Linked DNA regions of Homo sapiens. The protein of the gene in region 3 interacts with the protein of the main gene of each other region in a biochemical or structural test. Each region holds a gene or a part of one and is shown on either strand. Other genes may lie near its edges.

Region 1 (7,034 bases), on a different chromosome or scaffold from region 3:
GAATAACTCACTCTCTCTCAGGATTTCTAATCAAATGGTTCAAAACCTTTCACCGGCCTCAGATGCTGACATCCTATTTTGAGAAGAAGCAACTGAAGCTCTAGGTCAGTCTTTGAAGGGGTTTAAATTGTTTATCAAAGACAGTGGAGGGAAAATGTTCAAATCTAAGAAGAAATTATTATCCTACAAAATTTACACTGGTCCTGCTTATATCTCAAAGCTTCTTGGTCTCTCTGGGAGGACGAAGACAAATCAGCTTGGCGTGAATCAATCAACCAGCATTTATCAGACCTCTGCTCAGGACTGGGCTAGGCCTGCACCTATACACATGCACTGACTCCCGATGTAAAGCCAGACAAGAAACCAAAATGAGAAATGGAGAATTTCAAATCTTCTCTCGAATCACAGCCTGACTTCTCCTGAACTGTACCAACTTTCTTCTAGCCCCCGAGAGCACTGGTTTATGCTCACACCAGGTGACACCAAGCTTCCCCTTGGTGCCAACCTCCTATCACTTTCACAAAAGCCTTCCCTGACTCTAGCCCACATTAATTCTTCTCTTTTCTATATTTCAGAATTTCAGAATTTCTTGTCTGTATAATTAATTTTGGCATTAAATCACAACATCTTATATTATTATCCTTTTCTTAAGAGTTTATCTTATCTTTCCCAAAGAGCTTAGCAAGATGCTTAAAGATCAGGTTTTGGATCTCTCGCATGATATAGTACTGACCGTATAGTAGATGGTTAATAAAAATACTGAGAAATTGAACTGTTACTATTTGGGCAGGTCTCTACGTTCTCTCTGCCAACACTGGCATTTGCTAACATCTCAAGGTCAACCACATTCACCAAAGAACAGAGATGCCAAAAGAGGCACTCAGTGGCACACCTGCCACTGAGCAGGTGGGCCAGCAGGTTCAAAGGTGAAGAGCACTGGGCTCCCTGGGGTGGTCTTGGAAAAGCTACCCTACCCTGAGACCTGAGTGTTTGGGGCTAGGCCCAGGGGATCCCATTTTCTAGCCTTGGGCTCAGAGATGGAATGTCCGTAAAAAGCCAAGAAATGGGAAGGAAAAGGCTGCCGGGGATCTAGATGTAAAATCGGCAGGAACACACATGAATAGAGGCCATAAATCCCTCCCGACGCAGACAATGCCTCAGTGATAAGCATGCAGATTGTGCACCTAGTTCAGAAACTCCCCTGAGTTTGCTTGTAATTAAGGGGGTTAGAAAAGTAAAAAAATATATAAACCCAATTAATCATTTAAATATTTAAAGTCAGATTTTTCCCTCACTCCAGGATTAGTATATTTCATAATGCCAGCAGCAGACAGCCCTGGTTTTTACTGGGGTTCATTTTGGAGCATGTTTAAACTAGTCAGATTGAGTGATGCTTCCAGCAACTAATCGCATGTCAAATAAAAGATATTTTATGTAATAAATTACCGCTACAAGTAATTCAAATGTCATTTATCAGTTTTATTATCAGTCAGGCAAAGTCTTGTTTCTCTATATTAATCAAAATCAAGCTTTTTTTTTTTTTAAGCAGTTTTGACACCTCTTGGCAAAAGTACAGAAGTGAAGAGGTAGAGTCACCCCCGGAGTGAGAGGAGCAATGTAACGGTATGAGAAGAATGAAGCTCAATGATGACAACTAAAAACTTCAGGTATTTAAAATTATCATTACCATTGTTTTTACACTAGTGTCAAAGCAGGAAGAAGTCTGTGTCTAAGAATGTGTATTTTATTTTTAGGGGCTGGAAGGCTCTTAAAAATATTCCTACCTAAATACCTCAACGTGTATTGCTTTTTCTCAGAGCGATCTGGACATGAGTATGATTTAAATAACTGAATTGCCCCTCCCCACCCCATTCTTTTGCCTCTTTCAGAAAGACTAACAGTTTAACCCTTTGTGTCTATGGAAAGTAGGTGAACATATGATGTTTTAGGCCAACTCTGTGATCAACCAGAACAATTTGTTCTGAGTAAGAAGTTTCCAAGTAGCCGAGAGACCTGTTCGGTATTAAGCCACTGGAGGAAACAGCTGGAACAGAACAGATGTGCATCTTAGAAAATTCTGCACCCCAGCTGCCGCTGCCTATCCTCAACAAATCCCATTACACGGCTGGGCCCAGGGACACAACTAAAGAAAAAGTGTGGAGACTCAGCCTTTGGTTAAAAAGAAGCACATAAAGTCAGCTTAGGACCCAAAGCAACTACAATGGATTGGAAAAAATGCTGGCCAGGAAGGAGAAAGGAGCCCCAAGCTGACAAGTCACAGGTGCTAACCCAGTAGCCCAAATACAGGACAAGGCTCACCACTGAAGCTCTGCAACCTGCAGTGGGTCACCCATGCAAGGCACTGACAGATTGACACACTTGAGCACACACTCCCTGGCCTCCCCCATTCAGCCTTCTGTGGACAGCCAAAGGAGGAGATCTCTAAATAAGATCCGTAACACAGACAGCAGATTCCAACCCACTGGCTGGCCCTTCAGCAAGTCCGGAGAAGAGAAGGCCTTTTTGGCTCTACTGCCAAGATCACACCTGCCTAGCTGCAGCTGAGCTGGATGAAAACAGTGCTGAGGTGAGGGAAAGAAGGCAGCTTCAGACCAGGTGCTGGGGGATCAAAACGAATCTGTCATTTTAAAATATGCCTTTTAAAATCTGATATCTAACACTTTTTTTTTTTTTTTTTTTTTTGAGACAGAGTCTTGCTCTTGTCACCCAAGCTGGAGTGCAATGGCATGATCTCAGCTCATTGCAACCTCCACCTCCTCGGTTCAAGCGATTCTCCTGCCTCAGCCTCCTGAGTAGCTGGGATTACAAGCACCCGCCACCATGCCCAGCTAATTTTTGTATTTTTATTAGAGACAGGGTTTTGCCACATTGGCCAGGCTGGTCTCCAACTCCTGACCTCAAGTGATCCGCCCGCCTTGGCCTCCCAAAGTGCTGGGATTACAGGCGTGAGCCACCGCGCCCGGCCTGTCTGTTTTTTTGAGATGGAGTTTTGCTCTTGTTGCCCAGGGTGGTCTCGAACTCCTGACCTCATGATCCACCCGCCTCGGCCTCCCAAAGTGCTGGGATTACAGGCGGGAGCCACTGCGCCCGGCCTTAAAATCTGATATCTAACAGTTTTAAATCATTTTTTGCAAAAATAAAACTTCTGAGAATAACAATTATAGAAAAGGCATTTTGAGAGATCACAGATCCAGTATTGAGTTTCTTTATTTTATTTTATTTTTTTTGAGACAGAGTCTCACTCTGTCACCTAGGCTGGAGTGCAGCGGCGTGATCTCGGCTCACTGCAACTTCCACCTCCTGGGTTTAAGTGATTCTCCTGCCTCAGCCCCCTAAGGAGCTGGGATTACAGGCGTGTGCCACCACGCCCGGCTAATTTTTTGTATTTTTAGTAGAGACACGGTTTCACCACGTTGGCCAGGCTGGTCTCGAACTCCTGACCTCAAGTGATCCGCCTGCCTTGGCCTCTCAAAGTGTTGGGATTACAGATGTGAGCCACTGCACCCTGCCTGTTTGTTTTTTTGAGGCAGAGTTTCGCTCTTGTTGCCCAGTCTGGAGTGCAGTGGCACGATCTCGGCTCACTGCAACCTCCACCTCCCGGGTTCAAGCAATTCTCCTTCCTCAGCCTCCTGAGTAGCAGGGATTACAGGCGCCTGCCACCACATCTGGCTAATTTTTTGTATTTTTAGTAGAGACAGGGTTTCATCATGTTGGCCGGGCTGGTCTCGAACTCCTGACCTCAGGTGATCCACCCGCCTCAGCCTCCCAAAGTGCAGGGATTAGAGGCGTGAGCCAACGTGCCCGGCCCAATGCTGAGTTTCATTAAAGAAACAAAATGGAGCTATTTTCCATAACTTTGTAGTCAATTTTAGCCTTTTTAAACTTTTTATAAGTGATTTCAAGGAGGGCTTCTGGCTGCATTTTGGAGGTATGCATTTATAACTTGTTTGAAGAAACTTTATTCCTATAGTAGCTTTCATTTAAGACAACGAAAGACCCCTCATGGGTCATGATCTCGTATAATTAAAAGAAACATTCAAAAAGGAACTTCATGTTTTAACCTGAAATTCCCTAACAGACCGCTACTACATAAACGTACAAAGTATAGCCAGGACAAGGGAGGGAGGGAAATGGAGGCTGACCTAAACTTACAAATATTAACTTAAAAAAATAGAAGTGGGAGACAGGTTATTGCAGTGAGCAAACAAGAATGCACCCATGAGTCAGATGGTCACGCTGTTTTTAGTGAAACAGTAACATTCAAAAGCACTGGTATGAGGAGATGGGAACAGAATCAATAAATAGTTGTACAGGTTTTCTGCATGTAACCAAAATACCTGAAACAACAATAAAATCATTTATTCTGATCCCTTGTCTCTTCTTAAACCTTTGTCACATACTTTAAAAAGTTTGTCTAGAAGACTGGGGTGTGTCACATTCCTTGGGAAAAACCCAAGAGCTTTCTGCTGCTCCCAGTTTCTCCTGGTTTGCTAAGTCTGGGAGATACAGAACACTGCCCTTTGGCCAGAGTCCTGAATCCCAATCAAGGTTAAGCAGGAGTTTGAGCGGGTGACTTACTGTATGGCTGAGATATGAGGTGAGGGGGCTGGACAGGAACCACCTGTGTGGCTGGGCCCAAGGACGAAGGCTCATCGGCAGCAGTGCCCGACTGCTGGAAGGCCATATCAATCTCTTCATCTGTCAGCCCTGGGGAGAAGAGGACATCATTGCAGGTGAGTACCTTTTGTCAGTGTCCATAGCTGCAACAGAATCTTCACTGAGCAAAGACCTTTACAGCCACAGAATGCCTCGCATCCTAGTAAGTTGCCTCCCCGATTTCAGATTCTCCGGAACCTCTCTCAGTTGCAATTTAACCTTAAGCGACAGAATATTAGCCTCAACACTGCTTCCAAATGTGGCTCATTCAATTTCCTTAATTTATCCTTGAGTTTATTGCTGCTTTTGAAGTCGCTCGGTACTGCAATTCTCCATTCTTCCCCCGAAAACAGATACCATCAACTGCAAATGTGGCTCATTTTAATCTGTAATGGTGTTAAAAAAAAAAGAGGGGAAAAAACTAACAATAATGCACGAAAACAGACAGGGAAACAAAAAACTAATTATTGGGTGAGACGACTAATTAGTCTAGATCGTTTCTGAAGACGGGAATAATTTGCTTTATTTTATGACAAATGCAGAAATAAAAAGAAAAATCAGGACTGACTGTGATTAGTATGAATGGGATATAGAATGTAAAGAAGAAAATAAAACAAGAAAACAGATCAAAACAAGGCCAGGCCCAAACTTTCAGATGATTATTATTCTAGCCTATCACACGCTGCCTGTATCGCCTTTGGCTAGTTTTTCTTTTCCCTTCTTGAAATCCTCCCGACACTCTAAACCACACCATACATGGGACATCAGGAAGTGGCAGGGCGCCATCTGCAGTGGCTATGCCATGTGGAGAGGATTTGCCCACAGAAGAATAAAAGGCAAATGAAAACCCATGAAGGCCGCATTTCCAGTGGGGACACAGCTGGGATATTTCCACCGGGTCTGAGCCAATTTGGGACACTGACTCTTGGGAGGAGGAAGAGAGCCCCATCCAACCCAAAGAACAGAATGAAATGTGGCGCTCAAGTATGAAAGGAGCGGTCACACGGGGCCAGCTCAGGAAGTAGCTGTGTGTACAAAGGCACTCCAGCTGCTGAGAGTGGGAAAAGCAGGTGGGAGGTCACTGTTAGTCTGCAAAAGACCACTCGGCCAGCCCTTGCTGTTCCAGGAATCCCAACATCCAAGCGAGCCGCAACACAGAGCTTTTAAACTACAGCCGAGAGCTTTTCCACATCTGGTCGGCAGCTCTCCATTAGAGGCCCACAGCATGGTATATTTGCCCCTGGGGGTAGATGAAGTACAAGGAGGTTCTGAGGATCAGCATCTTCAAAAGGATGGTGCCTCATACTCCATGCCTAGGGGCTAATAGATGGTGCACATTAATGCTTTAAAGCACAGCTCCGCCCTGCACCATACTGGCATATGAGTTGACTGCAGCCACCCCTCAAACTTTTCATGCCCTACCACAGCTAGTCAAAGGAAAATGCCCGAACTTTTCTAAACAGCCCTGGACTCTTTTTTCCCTTCTCTGTGCTGAGGAGTTGAGGACTATCCCCATTTAAAACTGCAGCTGTTCCCCTCTTTACCCTCTTCACACAGTGGAGCTGGCCAAGGGCAGGCACAGCCTCACCACTGGGAAGTCTGAAGAGCCACCGGGTTGCCCTGATAGCACCATGCTCTCAACAGATTGGTGGGCTGGATGAAAATGCTTCCAGGGTTCACAGCGCATCACGTACCACCTTCCAAAGACAAAAGCTGAAGGTCAGTAGAGTGGAGCTAGAGAGGGGGTGCTTGCTGCAAAGGGACTGCTTTACCCATAATTTCACCTTCCAAGAAGAACAGGGACAGGACCAACAGGCAAGCCAGGCAACAACAGAGAATACCCCCGCCCTGAGTTTGTGCCTCTCAGGTTCCAGCCTGTGTAGTGACTGCCGATCGCTCCGACTAAACAGGAAGGGGAACCCCTTTCGGAGCCCTGGTGGGAAAGACATTGTTTTAACCAGTTCATAATCAGCCATTAGAGAAGAAAGCAGCATCTGCGATGTCAGCACAGGCTGATGGTCACTGGTACACTACGGAATTTTATAAACCTGGTGGTTCGTGTGCCTTGTCAGCCGCTGGCTGCAAATGAAGATAATTTTCCCAAAAGGAGCATTCAGTTGCATTCTCATTTTCCCTTTTGGCTCTTTCAAATATAAACAAGTACAATAATGTTTAACACTGGGGAAATATACAGTAAGTTACAGACTGTGCTGTGGCCCTGAGGGCCGGAGCTGGTTAAAGGGACAGGACGCCCTGCCCGCAGTTCTGCCCTCTGGCCCTGAGCTTTTATGAAGCCTATTTTCCTAATAAAACATGTTCCTTGCATTATCGCAGCCGAGCCCACTAGTGAGGCCACA
Region 2 (7,034 bases), on a different chromosome or scaffold from region 3:
TTATTGTGAAAATGATAAAGAATCAAAAACACTTAAATCTTACCAGCAAAATTCTAAGTCATGATCAGATGCAAATTATTTGTCACAAATGAAAATTAAATAATTACAATGGGGGGTTTAAGAAGAAAGACATATTATAGTAGATTTGAGATAAATGTATAGAAAGTATATTTATATTGAAAACAAGTGTGTTTTTGGACATCTCTGCATAATATAAAAACTAAGAAGGCAGAAAATGACGCTAGTCCAGTGATCAGCAAACTTTTTCTGCGAAGGGCCAGATAATAAATATTTCAGGCTTCGTGGATCTGCTGCAACTACTCACCTCTACTGTTGTAGTGCGAAAGCAGCCAGACATAAGTAAACAAATGAGCACGGCTGTCTTCCAATAACATTTTATTTATGGACACTAAAATTTGAATTTTATATAATTTTCACTTGTCACAAAGTATTACTCTTTTGATTTTCTCCAACCATTTAAAAATGTTAAAACCATCCTCAGCTAGTGGATCACTAAAAACATAAAGATTTATCCCACAAGCCAGTGTGCTGGCCCTTGCCCTAGACTATTACAGTTCAATAAAATAAATCCTTCTGCATTCAACCTCAACTATTGTTCATCATTAATACGTGTTTTAAGCCACTCTACAGAAAACAGAGATTACTGTCATCTATAATGCAGTTTCCTAATAAAAGTAATTCCTGCCTCTCAGAGCCATTGAGAACATCAAATGGGAATCTTCACCAACGCCTTACCAAAAAGCTTAAGATACTATCTGTAAATAGCTATTATCCTCACTGCTCTAGATACTTCCTTAAGATATGATGGCCTGTATATGACAGCCAGAAGTGATGCGAATGCTCTTCAGGTGTCTTCATTAGATAATACAACAACTCAATGCCACCATCTTGCAACCACAGGATTCTCTAAGTTTCCTCTCATCCATATTATCTACCCTCCTTGAAGTCTCATCAATTGCTGATCAAAGAGGAATTTTCCAAAATTAGAATATTTGCATAGATGATGGAAAAAGAGTACTCTGGGGGATCCCTCAACAACCCACAGAACACAGGATAAGCTTGGCTTCACTGTTACATCCTGAAAAGCCAAACCCAAGTCATTAATTTTATCTGATACACGGTCTGGTCTGCTCCAAAATCTCATAGGATCAAACTGCAGAAATGATCACTACAAAGAGTTTGTCCCATCACATACTTCTCTTTTATCATAATAGTATATTAATATCTGCCTGAGCTGCAATGTAAATTGTCTCTGAAAATATAAGGGCTATCAATAAACAAACAGTGCATTCAAAGAGATCCATGAATTTATGTAACAATCAAGAGTCAAGTCCTTTGTTTTTAAAAAGTTCTATTGACATGGAATTCAATATTAGCTTAAAGCCAGATACTGTCTAATTGCTTACTACATCACTTTTTGAGGAACATTAATGCAAGTATTTCTAGTCCTAATTTTGCAATATCCCAAAGTATCAATGATATCAAGTAGGGCTCAAGAATCTACAAACATACTTTTAAAGTTTTTAATTAAAAAATGTATTCTGGATATGACACCAAAAGCTCATATCCCAAAAATCATTGCAAAGACTAATGTCAAGAAACTTTCTCCCTATGTTTTCTTCTAGGCATTTTACGGTTTTGGGTACTGCATTTGGGTCTTTAAGCCATTTTGGATTAAGTTTTGTACATAGTGTGAGGTAACGGTTCAGTTTCACTCTTTTGCACATGGATATGCAGTTTCTCCAATACCATTTATCGAAAAGACTATCCTTTCCACATTTCTATTCTTGGAACCTGATCAAATGTGATTTTTTTTCTAAAAAAAAATTTGCTTTCTAATTTGTCACATTGTTCTATGTGTCTGAAAAAAAAAAATGTATTCTGGCCAGCATGTCATAAATACGAGAGTAATAAATGATAAAAGAAAATGCTGCTCATACAAAACTAGTATTATGTCTATATGTATGAAAAGCATGGACATTTTTACATAAATGTACAACTTTCCATTTATAAGTTGATGGGGCCTATGTGACTTATCAAATTGTTAATACAAAATAATAACAAAAGTGTTATCTATATTTCCTTCAGTTCTTCCTTATCAAAATTATATACAATGAACTCATAGTCTAGTGAAATACATGGCAAGGTCCCAGCTGTCTTTTCCCTTATATCACACAGGATAGTTAGAAAAATCCAGATCAGACTGGAATAATAAGCAAAATCATATTTTTCCTAATACTGTTCTTCACTGGCTCTCAAACTCTAGCCTTTTTCTGAACTGCATCTTCCCATCTTTGCATAGCTCCCTTATTACATCAAGATCCATCTCCAGCACCCTGGTTTGCATCTCAGGCCCTGGTTCCAGCCCCACAATACTTTCCCAACCAGATCTGAACTGAGAAAAAGACATCACTACTCACATCCCCAGTTCCTGTTTTGCCTTTTTTCAAAACCAAGTGATTCTTTCCCCTCTTCATGTTTCAACTCAGGAGCTCAGTTATTAAACACATCCCCAAATATCCTACAACCCACAGGTAGATTTGTTTTTCAGTAAGACCCCAGAAGTAACATATGCTTCTAAGTCAACAGCACATGCTATAGGCAAAATGCAATCATCTTTCATACTACTAAGAAATTTCCCTAATATTTAAGTTATCTAATATAAATTCTTTGAAAACCCTAAATTAGGGCAAGTGGCTACTACCTATAAAAGATAAGAACTTAAAATGAATATGTGAGTTTAAAAAGTAAACAGATATTAAGATGTGGAGGCAAAGGGATAGTCTGTCCACTAACACTCCCCACCAAAGGAGTCAGCAGTCTTCTCAAAAAGCTCCCAATCTGACCTCCAAGCAGAGCTACTTCCTCTGTGCTTTTAATGCAGCAAGCATGTGCAAACCTCCTTCACAGGTGTTATGTACTGGACTGTCGTTATTGACAAAGATAGTCTCATTAACATCTATATCCCAAGAATAAAGTTTATACTCAATCACTGAAGAGGAAGGGCAAGGGAATTATTCAGACTTCTTTTCGTGGAAAGGGACTCAAGAAAATACTTAAAAGCACCCTTCAAATTCAGGATTAAAGGAAAGACGTTAAAAAGAAGGAAGTTCTGGAACCTGAAAAACTAAGAGTTTTTACCTCACCTTATCATAGGTAGCTGACGTAAGGTCATCATAGTCAGAAAGCCAGGGGTGGGCCTCAGCATCCCGTTTTGCCATCTCCTCCAACTCTGCCTGCAACTTGTCCCAGAAATCGACATCAGACTGTAAGGAAGGGAAAGCAGATAGAAAAAGGAGATCCATCATGACCACCCCACCCCACACTCAGCTCTGCTGGGATTCTCTAAGGCAGCAGTTCTTGAATTTCAATATGTTTAAGAATCATCTGAATAAGTTTTTTAAAATGCAAATGGCCAGATGCTATCCCCAGATACTGATTTAGTAGTCTGGGGTGATGGCCAGAAATGTAATGTAGTGCAGTGCAGTGCAGTGCAGTGCAGTGCAGTGCAGTGCATAGTTTAGTTTAGTTTTTTGTTTGAGACAGAGTTTCACTCTCGTTGCCCAGGCTAGAGTGCAATGGCGTGATCTCATCTCGTTGCAACCTCCACCTCCCAGTTTCAAACATTTCTCCTGCCTCAGCCTCCCAAGTAGCTGGGATTACAGGCATGCGCCAACACACCACGCTAATTTTGTATTTTTAGTAGAGACATGGGGTTTCTCCATGTTGTTCAGACTGGTCTCGAACTCCTAACCTCAGGTGATCCACCCACCTCGGGCTCCCAAAGTGCTGAGATTACAGGCATGAGCCACCATGCCTGGCCCAGAAATCTGCATTTTTCAACAGCACCCACCCCATCCCCAAGCAACTCTGACACAGATGATCCAGGTCCACTATGAAATACAATTTGCATCATCTTTGATGTTCATACACCCACTCACTCCAAGGAGTGTTTTCTTTTGGGGTGTCTGCTCCTGCACTATCTGCTCTCACCTCTATAGCTGACTTGGCTCGTTCAAACTCCATATCAAGGGCAGATGTGTTTACTGGTCTTGTGAACTGGTCAACCCAGGCATCTGATGTACCCTGCGACAAAAAAGGATGGTCAGTACCACTACCACCAACTTTCTATCCATCAGACGCACACTAAATACCCACTAACCACCACCAACCTGGGTACTTCTGAGAAAATCATTCTCAGAATCTCTTTCCCACCCACTTGGGACCTGGATGCTATCAAGACAAGCTGGTCTTATCCTTCCCCATCTGGGACCACTGACCACTGAACCCATGGCCTGGGGCATCAGCTGGCTCTGAAGTGGGACTGGAAAGTGACAATGTCCTACCTGCTGCTGTATAAACTCTGCTGCCCACTGTTCTGCCTGAGCTCGGCCCGACCCTGCACCGGACTCCAGGGACACCTGCCCTTCGCCAATCTGCCGCACGAATTTCAGGAACTGGGGCACAGAGACACACACAGGCCACTTGGGAAAGGACTTCCAGGTGTGCACTCTCAACCATGCCCAAGAGGACCCTGTACTCACCCCTCCCCTGACCATCTCTAGCTGCAGACAAGATATGCTAAAGACCCTAAAAGAGGTAGAGAGCAAAAAGAAAGGGATTTCTGGCTCTAAAGACTTGCAAAGGCATCAGAAAAAAGAGTTAGTAGGCAAGGAGATGAGGGAATGAACACTAGAAGGAAGAGGCAGGATCTTAAGTCTCTGTTCTATAGACAGGAACGAAGAGACCTAAGATCTCTTCTCCTTCTCTTTAAACTAAACTGGGGTAAGAAAAGCAAGATTCTTGCCTTCCAAAACCAGCTCTGCTGGGCAAAGCAGCAGAGGGATGTGGCTCACCTCAGAATTAGCCAATTTGGGGTCATCCACTTTGGCCACAAAGTCACTGGCCGTGTGCTGCAGATCCTCCTCAGGATGATATTCATCATACCTGGAACGGGTAAGAACTAATTTTACACATTAGTCTGCCATCACCCTCCCCATGCTACTCCCCACTCCTAGCCCATGACAATGACAGTTCCTGTGAGGGAACTCCATTCTCCTGTTGAGAACCTACAAACTCCAATTTGCATTATAGAAGGACATTTGGGCAGGAGTGTGAAAGTACTAGCTACATCCTTCTAGCTCTCCCTTTCCCAAACATATCTTTGCATACAGATGGGATAGTAGCAGGCTCAAAATTAAGAAGGGAACAAGGTAAAATTATGAACTTTAAGATGAAGTTATGAACGTCATATAGGATAGTTAGGATTCTTGAAAAATATATATATATTTACCTATATACATATATTTTAAAAGTCTGAAAACTCCCTTCCTCCCAAATATAGCTGATATGTATATATACGTGTATGTGTGTATGTATATACATGTGTATGTGTATGTGTGTATACATGTATGTCTATGTGTGTGTATACATGTGTACGCATGTATCTACATGTTTACATATGTATACGTGTGTATATACATGTATGTGCACATGTATGTGTATGTATGCGTGTGTACATATGTGTATGTGTGTATATATGTGTGTGCGTGTGTGTGTGTGCACGCACACATGCATGCGCTTTTGGTTTTTTAAAGACAAGGTCTTACTGTGTTCCTCGGGCTAGACTTGACCTCCTGGGCCCAAGCAATCCTCCCACCTCAGCTTCCTGAGTACAGGCACACAACCACTGTGTCCTTGACTACATTTCAACCATAAATTCACAGGAGTAATAACCCAAGGGGAAATCTTAAAGAATAAAGTAAGCCCTCTCCCTCTCCCTCTCCCTCTCCCTACGGTCTCTCTCCCCCTCTCTTTCCACGGTCTCCCTCTGATGCCGAGCCGAAGCTGGACTGTACTGCTGCCATCTCGGCTCCCTGCAACCTCCCTGCCTGATTCTCCTGCTTCAGCCTGCCGAGTGCCTGCAATTGCAGGCACGCGCCGCCATGCCTGACTGGTTTTCGTATTTTTTTGGTGGAGACGGGGTTTCGCTGTGTTGGCCGGGCTGGTCTCCAGCTCCTAACCGCGAGTGATCCGCCAGCCTCGGCCTCCCGAGGTGCCGGGATTGCAGACGGAGTCTCGTTCACTCAGTGCTCAATGGTGCCCAGGCTGGAGTGCAGTGGCGTGATCTCGGCTCGCTACAACCTCCACCTCCCAGCCGCCTGCCTTGGCCTCCCAAAGTGCCGAGATTGCAGCCTCTGCCTGGCCGCCACCCCATCTGGGAAGTGAGGAGCGTCTCTGCCTGGCCGCCCATCGTCTGGGATGTGAGGAGCCCCTCTGCCTGGCTGCCCAGTCTGGAAAGTGAGGAGCGTCTCTGCCCGGCCGCCATCCCATCTAGGAAGTGAGGAGCGCCTCTTCCCAGCCGCCATCCCATCGAGGAAGTGAGGAGCGTCTCTGCCCGACCACCCATCGTCTGAGATGTGAGGAGCGCCTCTGCCCCGCCGCCCCGTCTGGGATGTGAGGAGCGCCTCTGCCTGGCCGCGACCCCGTCTGGGAGGTGAGGAGCGTCTCTGCCCGGCCGCCCCGTCTGAGAAGTGAGGAGACCCTCTGCCCGGCAGCCGCCCCGTCTGGGAAGTGAGGAGCGTCTCCGCCCGGCAGCCACCCCGTCCGGGAGGGAGGTGGGGGTCAGCCCCCCGCCCGGCCAGCCGCCCCGTCCGGGAGGGAGGTGCGGGTCAGCCCCCCGCCTGGCCAGCCGCCCCGTCCGGGAGGGAGGCGGGGGGTCAGCCCCCCGCCCGGCCAGCCGCCCCGTCCAGGAGGGAGGTGGGGGTCAGCCCCCCGCCCGGCCAGCCGCCCCGTCCGGGAGGGAGGTGGGGGTCAGCCCCCTGCCCGGCCAGCCGCCCCGTCCGGGAGGGAGGTGGGGGTCAGCCCCCCGCCCGGCCAGCCGCCCCGTCCAGAAGGTGAGGGGCGCCTCTGCCCGGCCGCCCCTACTGGGAAGTGAGGAGCCCCTCTGCCTGGCCACCACCCCGTCTGGGAGGTGTACCCAATAGCTCATTGAGAACGGGCCATGATGACAA
Region 3 (3,805 bases):
TGTCTAAACTAGAATCTAGATCCCCCAAAATCTAGGTATGAAGTGTTTTTATTTAACACACCTGTAGGTAATTCTATATAAATGTATTATTTTTCTTTTTTTTTTGTTTTTTTCTTTTTAGATGGAGTCTCGCTCTGTCGCACAGACTGGAGTGCAGTGGCGCGATCTCGGCTCACTGCAATCTCTGCCTCCCAGGTTCAAGCAATTCTCCTGCCTCAGCCTCCCAAGTAGCTGGGACTACAGGCACCCACCGCCACACCTGGCTAATTTTTGTATTTTTAGTAGAGACGGGGTTTCATCATATTGGTCAGGCTGGTCTCGAACTCCTGACCTTGTGATCCGCCCGCCTTGGCCTCCCAAAGTGCTGGGATTATAGGTGTGAGCCACAATGCCTGGCCTATTTTTCTTTAAATCACAAAGAAACAGAACAGATAGGTTTGCAGTAGGTAATATATACAATAATGTTAAAGAGATACTTCATATTAATTCTAATCCTGCAAAAGTGTTAACAATTTATCTTAAAAAGTCAATCAAGTTTAACATATTTTTATTTCTCCAGTAAAAGTAACTTCACAACCTACTAAAAATAAAAATTTAACTGCATTCAGTTTCTGTTCATTTTTCTATTAAAGAAAGCACAAGATAAAGGATAGCTGTGTTCAAGTAAATGTGTAATTATGACACAGACAGAATCAAGTACGTACATAAAATGTTAAAACATGAAAATGTATAGTTCTTTTACCATTTCCTTTCTGAACTCATAAAATATAATCAGAAAAATTAAAAGAAACATGTTTTATTATTGTAAACTTATATTTTATTTAATTAATAATGTTTTGGTGTGTTAGTAATTTCTGTAAAGTAGCACTCCTTAAATAAGTTCCTAAAAATAATATTGGAGCCTTGAACATTTAATCTCAGCTAAAAAAATTATTCTAAAACTGTCATGATAAAAAAGGTTACAAAATTTCTCTTTATTCTAGTCCTGAATTCCTTCTCCAGAATTTTAATACAAAACGAATTTTCAGGCACAAATAGTCACCAGATAATGCATACCGTAATTTAGCAGACTTAACCAAACAATAAACACCCCTACAAAAGTGTCACTATTTTATCACTTTGTGCTGTACTCTTCTCCCTATACATCTTTAATAGTGGTCACTTCTACTTTACTTCTAGCATTCAATTTAGACATCTCAACCCCAAATTTAATAATCTGTTTTATCAAACATTTGTTTTGAGAACAAAATTTCTATAAATTATCTGACAAATCAAAGCAGAACCTTTAATTGTAGAACACAAATGAAAAATAATATACAAGAAACCTTATCTCTTCAACTTCAAGGCTAATACCTGGGTGTTGGAAAACTGGCCAAAGATAAATAAATTTTACTATATTTATTTTTCTGCACTGGGTCAAGATTTCTATTATAAATGATATGTTACTTACGATACTGTCGTTTCAAAAAAGGGCTTTCCAAGAAGCCTTTAGTAAAGTTCTTCTATGCTGGGTATGTACTTGGTTCCTGTATGTTTTAATCTGAACTATTCGAGAATTACTTATTTGTTGAACATAGTCTATTAGAAAAAAATACTAAATCGCTGGGTGCGGTGGCTCACGCCTGTAATCCCAACACTTTGGGAGACCGAAGCGGGCTCATCACGAGGTCAGGAGATGGAGACCATCCTGGGTAACACGGTGAAACCCCGTCTCTACTAAAAATACAAAAAAAATTAGCCGGGCCTGGTGGCAGGCGCCTGTAGTCCCAGCTACTCGGGAGGCTGAGGCAGGAGAATGGCGTGAACCCGGGAGGCGGAGCTTGCAGTGAGCCGAGATCGCGCCACTGGACTCCAGCCTGGGCGACAGAGTGAGACTCCGTTTCAAAAAAAGACAAAAGAAAAAATACTAAATCACAATTTTTATCAAACAGTTCAAAGTTTTCAACAATATCTATAAATGTATTCTTATACACCTGTATTCCTGATAGTATTACTCTGTAGTATGTTCGTAGCCAAGTATATGAAGTTTCCAATTTTCTGGGGAAATATTCAGTGTACTGAAAGTTAACTGCATTTAAAATCATTATAAACCAAAAAACACGTCAAATAGCATTATCGTATTATTATTTTTTGTTTGTTTGTTTTGAGACAGAGTCTTGCTCTGTCCCCTAGGCTGGAGTGCAGTGGCATGATCTCAGCTCCCTGCAACCTCTGCCTCCCGGGTTCAAGTGATTCTCCTGCCTCAGCCTCCTGAGTAGCTGGGACTACAGGTGCACGCCACTGCACCCAGCTAATTTTCGTATTTTTAGTAGAGACAGGGTTTCACCGTGTTGGCCAGGCTGGTCTCAAACTCCTGACCGCAGGTGATCCGCCCGCCTTGGCCTCCCAAAGTGCTGAGATTAAAGGCATGAGGATTATCATATTCTAAATGGCAATAGAGCACTAAGACTATAAATAAGTCTCAGTAGTAAAAACTAAACCTAAAAGAAAAATGTATCCAATGTGACACATTTTCAATATTTACAGAGCATCCTAAATATGGAATTTAAAAAATTACACAAGGTAGAAGCAAACAATCTATGAAAATATTAAAAATTACTATTATAACTGATTATATCATTAAGTGCAAACTCAAAAGAACTCAAGTATTTGTTGTAGGAAAAGAAAGTATACCTTTCATATACTTCTGATTCACCCAGTATGAAAACTAGTCATATTTTAAAGAAATAAATAATTTTATTTTTTGAGATGGAGTTTCGCTTTTGTTGCCCAGGCTGAAGTGCAATGGCGAGATCTCCGGCTCAGCGTAACCTCCGCCTCCTGGGGTTCAAGCAATTCTCCTGCCTCAGCCTCCCGAGTAGCTGGGATTACAGGCATGTGCCACCACACCTAGCTAATTTTGTATTTTTCGTAAAGATGGGGTTTCTCCATGTTGGTCAGGGTGGTCTTGAACTCCCAACCTCAGGTGATCTGCCCGCCTCAGCCTCCCAAAGTGCTGGGATTACAGGCGTGAGCCACCATGCCTGGCTTAAAGAGATAAATAATTAAGGGATCCTTAGAAGAAATGGAACAGTTTGTAAGAAAGATAAATTTCAGACTTTTTGCTAGGAGGGAAAACTATTAGGGCTACATACTCTATAATTCTAGAACCATTTCCTTCAGAATGCTTCTGGGTGACCTTTTCAAATTAAATTTTTAAAAATACAGTAAAAGATAGCAGTGTCAGTTGTTTGTGGGTGAAAATATAAACCCAACACTGGATATAATACAGATCAGAAAATTTTATTATTGAGATTACTTAAGGTTGTAAAAAAAAAAAAAAATTTACCTTTTGCCTGTTCTCATACTGACATGTCACCACTCCATTTCTAAGGATTCCAAGTCAATTAATGCAGAACTTTTAAAAGTATTAATGATCTCTACTGTACCAAACTGTGCATGCTATAGTTCATCAATCTTACTCTTCCAATAAACCTAGAGATTTAAATAAGATAAAAATGACAGCAGTCTCCATAATCTTAAAATCTAGGTGAAACAAATGTCCTTATGGTCCAATAATGTGTATAATAAAATGTAACCAGGTCACCAGACCAACATACTAGTGTGTAACTTTAATAATTTCTAGCAGCAAAACACCTGAAATAGCCAATAACAAATGTTTTCATTGGATTGTACATTCATTTCTTTGTGAGAAATAATTTTAAAAAGTACTCTAAAGTATTGTTCAACTGCAGGCAAACATGAAAGATATCAAAGATCTTGCTTTTCTCCATCTTTCCCAATGGAATCAGGTGCAACTGGAACC
Region 4 (7,985 bases), on a different chromosome or scaffold from region 3:
ATACTCTGCATGATGGGGAGGATGTTCCCTTCCCCATCCCCTTCGTCCATGCCTAGCCCCTCCATGGCCTTGGTCAGCTCTTCTTCCGACATGCTGGAGTTCTAGATAGGACAAGTAAGAGGTGAGCAGGTATACTACCTTCTTGGGATGCTCACCACTCTCTCAGGTGACAAAGATAAACTATCTAAACTTGCCTGTAACAAACAATAAGACAGCAACAGACTTGGGATGATACTCAAAGCATCTGTCTTTTGAGACTCTGCTGGAGAAATGTCTGGGAGTGGACCCCTTGTGGGCCCCTACTACTTTCTCCTCACCTGAAGGTCAGTGGCATTTTTGGCTAATCCACTTAGTGTTTCCTTTAGGCAAGAAGTGAATTCTTGTTGGGAGGTCATATCACTGCCTAGGAGAGATTAAAAAAGCCAGCGTCATTTAGGAGTTTGTTTCCTTGCCTAGACTGAACTGGTTAACAGCTTGGATATGAAGCATTTACTAGTGAATCATTATCACTCCCAATCTTGGAAAACCCTATGGTTATCTTCATAGTCTTTTCATAAATCTATTTAGTACACGGACTCTGCATCAGTTTATTCTCCATGATGATACCCACAATAACACTGTGACCTTTCAAATGGTCAGTTTTGAATAATGTTTTCTATTACTTTCCAACCTATCTCACCCCTTTTCATTAACAGGGATTCCCATCCTTTCTCTCATTGCCTTTACCCGTTCCTTGGCTGTGACATCATGATTGCTATCAACTTCACTAAGAATTCTGGTGTTTTCAGGCAACAAAGACTTAAGAGTCTGTTCAGATATTTCCATGTATCTGGGGTCTCCTCACCCACTCTCCCTGCAGCCTCTGAGAGCTTTTGGAACTGCTCCACCAGGTGGGGTTCTTCCTCAGCCAACTCCTTCATTGCCTTCTCGAACTCCGCAGTGGCTTGGGAAGCCAGTTCACTGTCGAATAGTTCCTGGAAAAACTTCTCTTGGGAAGCGAAGAGGGCATCCTGCGGGGGAAGGATGGCTGAAATGCGTCTCTTACTTAGGACTACACTGCACCTGGCCTCTGATAGAAGCCACAGGCAGTGGCTATGGGAAATGCACCTCCCTCCTACCCAATTCCACTGGACATTCTAACTACTGCTCCTAATGAGGATAGCAAAAAAGGTATCTAGTCATTGAAGGAGGGTATGGGATGGCATACCAATCCAACCATTTAAACCTACTATTTTTTCAAGGAACTCTGAGATTCCCCCACTCAACCTCAAGTCCTTATTTCACAAGGACTGAGGCTGGCAAGAGCACTCACCAATGTGAGGCCAAGGTACCCTCCCACATTCCCCTCTGGCCCATAGGGGCCTGCCCAACCTCTGCTCAGGGCTGCATGCCCATCCCCTCCCCATCCCTTAAGGGGGTGGAATTTATACTTTGGCAGTGTCTCCTGGCGATCTCTTCTGGGGCCCCGAAGCATCAGGGGCCGTGGTGGTAGAAGGGGGTGCTGGGGAGGGTTTGGCTTTATCGAAATCATCAAGAGCACCTTCAGAGACAAGAGACATGGTGTGTGTGTTGGCGACAGATGAGAATGCAAGCAAGGCTGGGTGGTTTCTGGGCAAAGCATTAGGAATATGATTTTTCAAATTGCCAACTTTCCTCAATTTTCCTCCTTGAGTCCCCCACCTCCCCAGACCACCCTCAATGAGCCTCCTACTTCCTTCTGGATTACCTAATTTATTGTGAGCAAAGGCAAAGAAATCCCTTAAGGTGGAACAAATGTCCATCTCAGAGCTGGGAGGAGAGGATTAAAAAGTTCTGCAGAGACATCTCCATCTATAGTGTCTCCCTTGCCACACCCTAACGATTCCCTAGAAATCCCATACAAATACCCAACAGTAGTAGAGAACACAGATGTCCTCATCCCTCTGAACTCACTCTGGAGCTCTAAAAGGAATAACTTGGTGAGAAAGCACAGGACATCCCACCCAGCTTCCTGTTGGTACTGGTACCAGCACAGACTGAGGGACTACATACCAGACTCCATGGTACGGCATTAAACTATCTTCTCTTATTCTCCAGTTTAGTGCTCCCCAACAACCTTCTAGAGCTCCCTTTGGCCTGATCTCTGCAGATAACCGTACACTAATTTACACAGTCACTTGGCACTCCTCAGGGTTTCTGTTCATTTTTCTGCCTGCCCACATCTCCGTGATTGAGCAAGCGATTACAAATTCACCTCTGCCCTGAAAAGCCTGTGTCCTCACCACCATTCTGTTCGCCAGGCCTAGGGAGAGAGCACTGGCCCTACTCTGGGCAGGAAGTCAACAGGGGAGTGGAGAGTAATGCTAAGAAAACATCCCCCGTCTTTCAGGAGGGTGAACTGCTTTCCCCTGAAATCGCCACATCCTCAGTTTCTCAAAATAAGGGAAAGGAGTCCGCTTGAGCTACTGACAAGATGAAAGAACTGTTAAGGGGCCTAACGAGAGAAAGAGAAAAGGACTAGGAGGAGAAAAGTGTCTTTCGTGTTAAGGAAGACAGGACGAGGCACACAAGGACCGGCCACGAGCTTGCTAGGAGTTAATGTAAGCAATCAGTGAGTGCGTAGTTCGCTACCCAGCAAGAACCAAATGCTGCTGCTGCTGCTACTGCTGCTGAAGTCGAACTTTAAGAACTCAGTAACCTAAAGAGGAGTTTGAAGAGGTATCATGAAACGCCGTCCTGCGGAAACATCCACCATCCGGACCACTGAGGGACCCCAGGTGAGCTCCCCAGCTCCAGTCGCCGGGGTGGGGCAGGATGACCCAGAGATTTTTGGGGGGCTCGGGGGTCAGACTCTCCGCCCCCATTTAACCTTTGGAGAGCCTCTCCTGCCCGTCCCTAATATCTCAGGTTCACTTAACCCCCAGAATGGGTCCTCACACGTGCCCTCTTCGGGCCTTTCCCACTATGGGCTCTTACTTTCCAGAAGCTCCTCCAATTCCCTGTCCGCTTCGGCCCCGACACTACAGCCTTCCTCAGCGGCGGCCATCTTGCTACCTCCGACTTGCCGTAGGAGGCGGGACCTCCTCGGTGCCGACACGCCCTCCACCCCTTCGCTCCCGCCCTCTTCTGCCTCGGGTAACCAATGGTATTGTTGACCAGTGCGGAACCGCCATTTTTAAAGGGCCAGGAAGCTTTGAGTGTTTGTGTTTTGGGTATTTTTCCCTTTTCTCCTGTGAAACAGAATTAGGGATAAGATAGGGTTATTTTCTGTCTGGTTTTAGAGGCCCGGACTCCTTTCTTTCAACTTCCCAAATTACCTGGCGAAGCTCTTTCATTATTTTTTCCTGAGCTGTGAGTAGGCCAGATTGAGACAAACTGCCTACAAATAACCAGAATCTAAACATATATAATTGATATGACAATTATGGCACATAACATACTACTTTCTCTCACTTCATTTTTTTTTTTTTATTTTTTTTTGAGAAGGAATCTTGCTCTGTCGCCTACGCTGGAATGCAGTGGCGCCATCTCGGCTCACTGCAGCCTTGGCCTCCCGGGTTCAAGCGATTCTTCCTGCCTCAGCCTCCCGTGTAGCTGGGATGACAGGCGCGCGACACCACGTCCGACTAATTTTTGTAGAGACGGGGTTTTAACATGTTGGCCAGGCTGGTTGGCCAGGCTGGTCTCGAACTCCGGACCTCAGCTGATCCGCCCACCTCGGCCTCCCGAAGTGCTGGGATTACAGGCGTGAGCCACTGCGCCCGGCTTCACTTCATTGTTTCCCTCAAATATTATCTTTTCTGAAACGCTTTCCTTGGCCATTCCCGTTCCTTTTCTTCCTAACACTGAACAGTATCTGACATACTATCTACCGTACTTTTTTATTCTCCGCTCCCCACCCTGCAGAATTTAAACACCATGAACGCAAAGATTTTCGTCTGTTGTCTTCACTGCTGTAAAGCCCAACTCCCAGGCTAGGGTTTAAAACTTAGTAGGCATTCATTGGCCACTCTTTGCTCTCGCAGTCCCTAATCAGGCACATCTGTCTGCCCAATCTAGTGGCATCTCTCATTTCCTATTATCTATTAGAACTGTTTGATTAAAGGACACAGGGCCGGCCAGGAACTTAGAACTCCATGTTATTAAGAGAGCCTCTGGTACCTTGGACTGAGCAGGGCAATTCGAATGCAGTAGTAATAGACTTACTTTCCCTGAACAATCTCCTTTTCTCCACACAGAACCCAACCTCCAACTGAGTGAACACGGGGAATGCTCAGATAGAGGTAACTCTAGACGTCCCTTTCCTCCTTTGGAATTGTTCTATTCAGATGTCAGAATGTAGCAACTGTTTCACATACAAATCTGTTTTCGCACTTAGAGAGCACCTATTATTAAGGTCTTGTTCTGGGCACAGTGAGGACAGAGAGATAAATCAGGACCACCCCCTGCTGTAAGGTAGCTAAGTGGGGGTGAGCCGGAGGTATGATGAGATATACACACAGTATGATACAAGGTAAGAATTTTAAATGAAAAAAAATCCTGTGTTAAGTCACCTCATCACTTTCATTCTTAGCTTCCTAAACACACATTTGAGTACTGCATCAAGCACCAGATCAAGCACTTACTATGTCCTTCACAGATAGGGCACAGACTTGTAAAATCATATCTGCAAAACCTGTTTTCTTCCAACCACAAGTAGTGTGTTTTGGGATCAAAATATTATGAACTGTGAGTTAGAAAGCCTAAATTCCAGCCCCAATTCTGCCACTAATCACTTTTGAAGTCCTTTACAATTCTAAACTTCTGTAATCAAATCCTTTCCTGATAAACCTGTTTTCCAACACCTGCAACATAATTTATTCCAGACTTTCTCATTCAAACTGCTTACACGTGTATCTCCAATATGGCTATAGTTGTAACAAGCACGTCAAAAAAAGAAAACTTGTCTATCAACAGGCATCTCTATTGGTTTTATTTTTTGAGACAGAGTTTCACTGTTGCCCAGGCTGGAGTGCAGTGGTGCAATTTTGGCTCACTGCAGCCTCCACCTCCCGGGTTCAAGTGATTCTCCTGTCTCAGCCACCTGAGTAGCTGGGTCTGCAGGCTCGCGCCACCATGCCCAACTAATTTTTGTATTTTTAGTAGAGACAGTGTTTCACCATATTGGCCAGGCTGGTCTTTAACTCCTGACCTCAAGTGATATGCCCACCTTGGCCTCCCAAAGTACTGGGATTATAGATGTGAGCCACTACACTTGGTCAATTGGCTTTAAACTAATGTAATATAAGCATGTTAATTAAAAGATAATAGATGATAATTAAAATGGAGTCAAAAACAAGCATGATTCTTTCTTTGCATTATTTCTTAAACTTCTTTCTGCTTTTCTATTTTTACTCCTAATATTCCTAACATCTCATCTCAGTATTTACTGACCTACTGACTGCTCCTTCTGCCCTTCTAATGTATAGCGAATACTGTTGAATAACAGTATTTTATAACGCTTTCATATCACTCTGTTCCTTAAGGATTTAATGGTTCTCCACAGTTTATCGAACAAATTCTAATTCTTGCCTGGGAGTCACAATTATTTCACATCTTGTATTTTTAGTAGAGACAGGGTTTCACCATGTTAGCCAGGATGGTCTCGATCTCCTGACCTCGTGTTCCGCCTGCCTTGGCCTCCCAAAGTGCTGGGATTACAGGCGTGAGCCACCACGCCCGGCCTTTTTTTTTTTTTAAGACAAAGTCTTGCTCTTGTCCCCTAGGCTGGAGTGCAATGGTGTGATCTCAGTTCACTGCAACCTCCGCCTCCCGGGTTCAAGCAATTCTCCTGCCTCAGCCTCCTGAGTAGCTGGGATTACAGGTGCCTGCCACCCTACCCAGCTAATTTTTGTATTTTTCGTAGAAACAGGGTTTCACCGTGTTGGCCAGGCTGTTCTCGAACTCCTGACCTCAGGTGATCTGCCTGCCTTGGCCTCCCAAAGTGGTGGGATTACAGGCGTGAGCCACCACTCCCGGCTAATATGTACATTTTTTTTTTTTTTGAGACGAAGTCTCGCTCTTGTACCCCAGGGTGGAGTGCAATGGCACAATCTCATTAGTAGTATGTACTCTGTTGAGAAGGCAGCCTTAGTTTAGGGATGCTGTTTAAAAAAGCAACTCTTAAGATAAAGCTAAAAAATACAACGTATAGTATGAAGAGAAGTAAAAAACAAAGTGAAGCTCCCTAATATATTGATACGAGAAAATACCAAAAATGTTAAATGAAAAAACAAAGGTACAAAATTGTTAAATAGTGTGGTTTCATTTGTGTATAAAAGGAGATAGAGAATGGCATAGTGATATCAGCATGTGCATGTATATGTGTGTGTGTGTATATATATATATATATAAAATTTCTGGAAGGATGTAAGAAAGCTGGTAACAGTGGTTACCTGTTTAGGGGAAGGTGATAGGAACTGGGTGGCTGATGAAAGGGTGGAAAGATTTGTCACAGAATAGCTTTTTATATTTACTGATTTTTCAACTATATGCATTTATTATTTATTGAAAACATGAATTTAACACGCAAAAAAGTACTTATTTTAATCGAAGGCACAGTAATGTCACTCTACCCAATTATTCTTAGCATATGACAAGCAAAATATTGTATTGTTAATGTAATCATTGTATCATTGTAATATATATAAAGTACTATTCTTTTATCTGTATATTACATGTAAAATATCTAGAACAGTGACAGTCACATGGCAGGTGCTCAATAAATATTGCTATAATTAGCAAAAGATAAAAGGCTGCAATCAAAAACAGAATAAGGGAGCTACTTGCTTTCTATCATTTTCACAGCAGTTTAGGTCCTCATATATACCCTATGAAAAACATGTGCTTCTTTTTTTCTTTCTTTTTTTTTGAGATGGAGTCTCACTCTGTCGCCCAGGCTGGAGTGCGGTGGCGCGATCTCAGCTTACTGCAACCTCCGCCTCCCGGGTTCAAGCAATCCTCTGCCTCAGCCTCCAGAGTAGCTGGGATTACAGGCACCCACCACCATGCCCGGCTAGCTTTTTTTTTTTTTTTCCAATAGTGGATGTTTATTTTGTAATTAAAAATTATTACTGGAAGGAAGATATGTACTTTGGTGGGGTGCCTGCATGGGTGAACAAGAACATGAGAGTGTCCAAGAAATAAATGGCCAAGTCAAGAAGCTCTCATAGAGATTTATTTAGTGTGAGAAATATGAGAACAATAGTTGTAAAGAACAAATCAATAACCCGCAGTGTGCATTTTGGAAAACCAAATAACTTCTTCAAATTTCTGAGTACACAGAGGGTACCTGCCTTGAAATTTAAATGTCTAAGGAAAATGGGAGATGATTAAGAGTTGGTGTGGCCTAGTCACACCAAAATGTATTTATTACATCCTGCTCCTTTCTAGTTGACAGGAAAGAAAGCTGCTGTGGGGAAAGGAGGGATAAATACTGAAGGGATTTACTAAACAAATGTCCATCACAGAGTTTTCCTTTTTTTTTTTTTTGAGACAGAGTCTTGCTCTGTCACCCAGGCTGGAATGAAGTGGTATGATCTCAGTTGAATGCAACCTCCACCTCCTAGGTTCAAGCGATTCTCATGCCTCAGCCTCCTGAGCAGCTGGGACTATAGGCGCATGCTACCATGCCAGGCTAATTTTTATATTTTTATTAGAGACGGGGTGTTGCCATGTTGGCCAGGCAGGTCTCGAACTCCTGGCCTCAGATGATCTGCCCACCGTAGCCTCCCAAAGTGCTGGGATTACAGGTATGAGCCACTCCACCCAGCCCAGAGTTTTCATTTGTTCCTTAAAATAATTAAGCTGGAAAGGCAAGGACAATTATGAGCACAACTGTAGTCAAGTTGAGAAGACCTCAAAAAAGTCAAGTTTAGACCTTCGGATTTTCCATAGAAGAGAAAAAGATACTAGGTTTTAGGGTACAGAGAGCCAGATCTGAAGAGTAGCTGCAGGGGGAAGGTGCT

What was found.
Region 1: the proteins of PEX13 (region 3) and PEX14 form a complex in vitro, tested with the Homo sapiens proteins (one study listed by BioGRID).
Region 2: the proteins of PEX13 (region 3) and PEX5 form a complex in vitro, tested with the Homo sapiens proteins (3 studies listed by BioGRID).
Region 4: the proteins of PEX13 (region 3) and PEX19 form a complex in vitro, tested with the Homo sapiens proteins (2 studies listed by BioGRID and IntAct, with this or other methods).

What each region holds. Positions count from the first base shown.
Region 1 is NC_000001.11:10,596,932-10,603,965, reverse strand, and holds part of PEX14 (peroxisomal membrane protein PEX14), read right to left. Parts: intron 4,729-7,034; coding exon 4,600-4,728; intron 1-4,599. UniProt on the Homo sapiens protein: Component of the PEX13-PEX14 docking complex, a translocon channel that specifically mediates the import of peroxisomal cargo proteins bound to PEX5 receptor.
Region 2 is NC_000012.12:7,199,685-7,206,718, reverse strand, and holds part of PEX5 (peroxisomal biogenesis factor 5), read right to left. Parts: intron 4,969-7,034; coding exon 4,878-4,968; intron 4,479-4,877; coding exon 4,368-4,478; intron 4,108-4,367; coding exon 4,015-4,107; intron 3,288-4,014; coding exon 3,168-3,287; intron 1-3,167.
Region 3 is NC_000002.12:61,048,716-61,052,520, reverse strand, and holds the end of PEX13 (peroxisome biogenesis factor 13), read right to left. Parts: coding exon 3,751-3,805; 3' UTR 531-3,750; downstream 1-530. UniProt on the Homo sapiens protein: Component of the PEX13-PEX14 docking complex, a translocon channel that specifically mediates the import of peroxisomal cargo proteins bound to PEX5 receptor.
Region 4 is NC_000001.11:160,282,100-160,290,084, forward strand, and holds the start of PEX19 (peroxisomal biogenesis factor 19), read right to left. Parts: upstream 3,035-7,985; 5' UTR 3,026-3,034; coding exon 2,956-3,025; intron 2,757-2,955; exon of another isoform or gene 2,266-2,756; intron 1,541-2,265; coding exon 1,431-1,540; intron 1,011-1,430; coding exon 845-1,010; intron 404-844; coding exon 318-403; intron 102-317; coding exon 1-101. UniProt on the Homo sapiens protein: Necessary for early peroxisomal biogenesis. Acts both as a cytosolic chaperone and as an import receptor for peroxisomal membrane proteins (PMPs).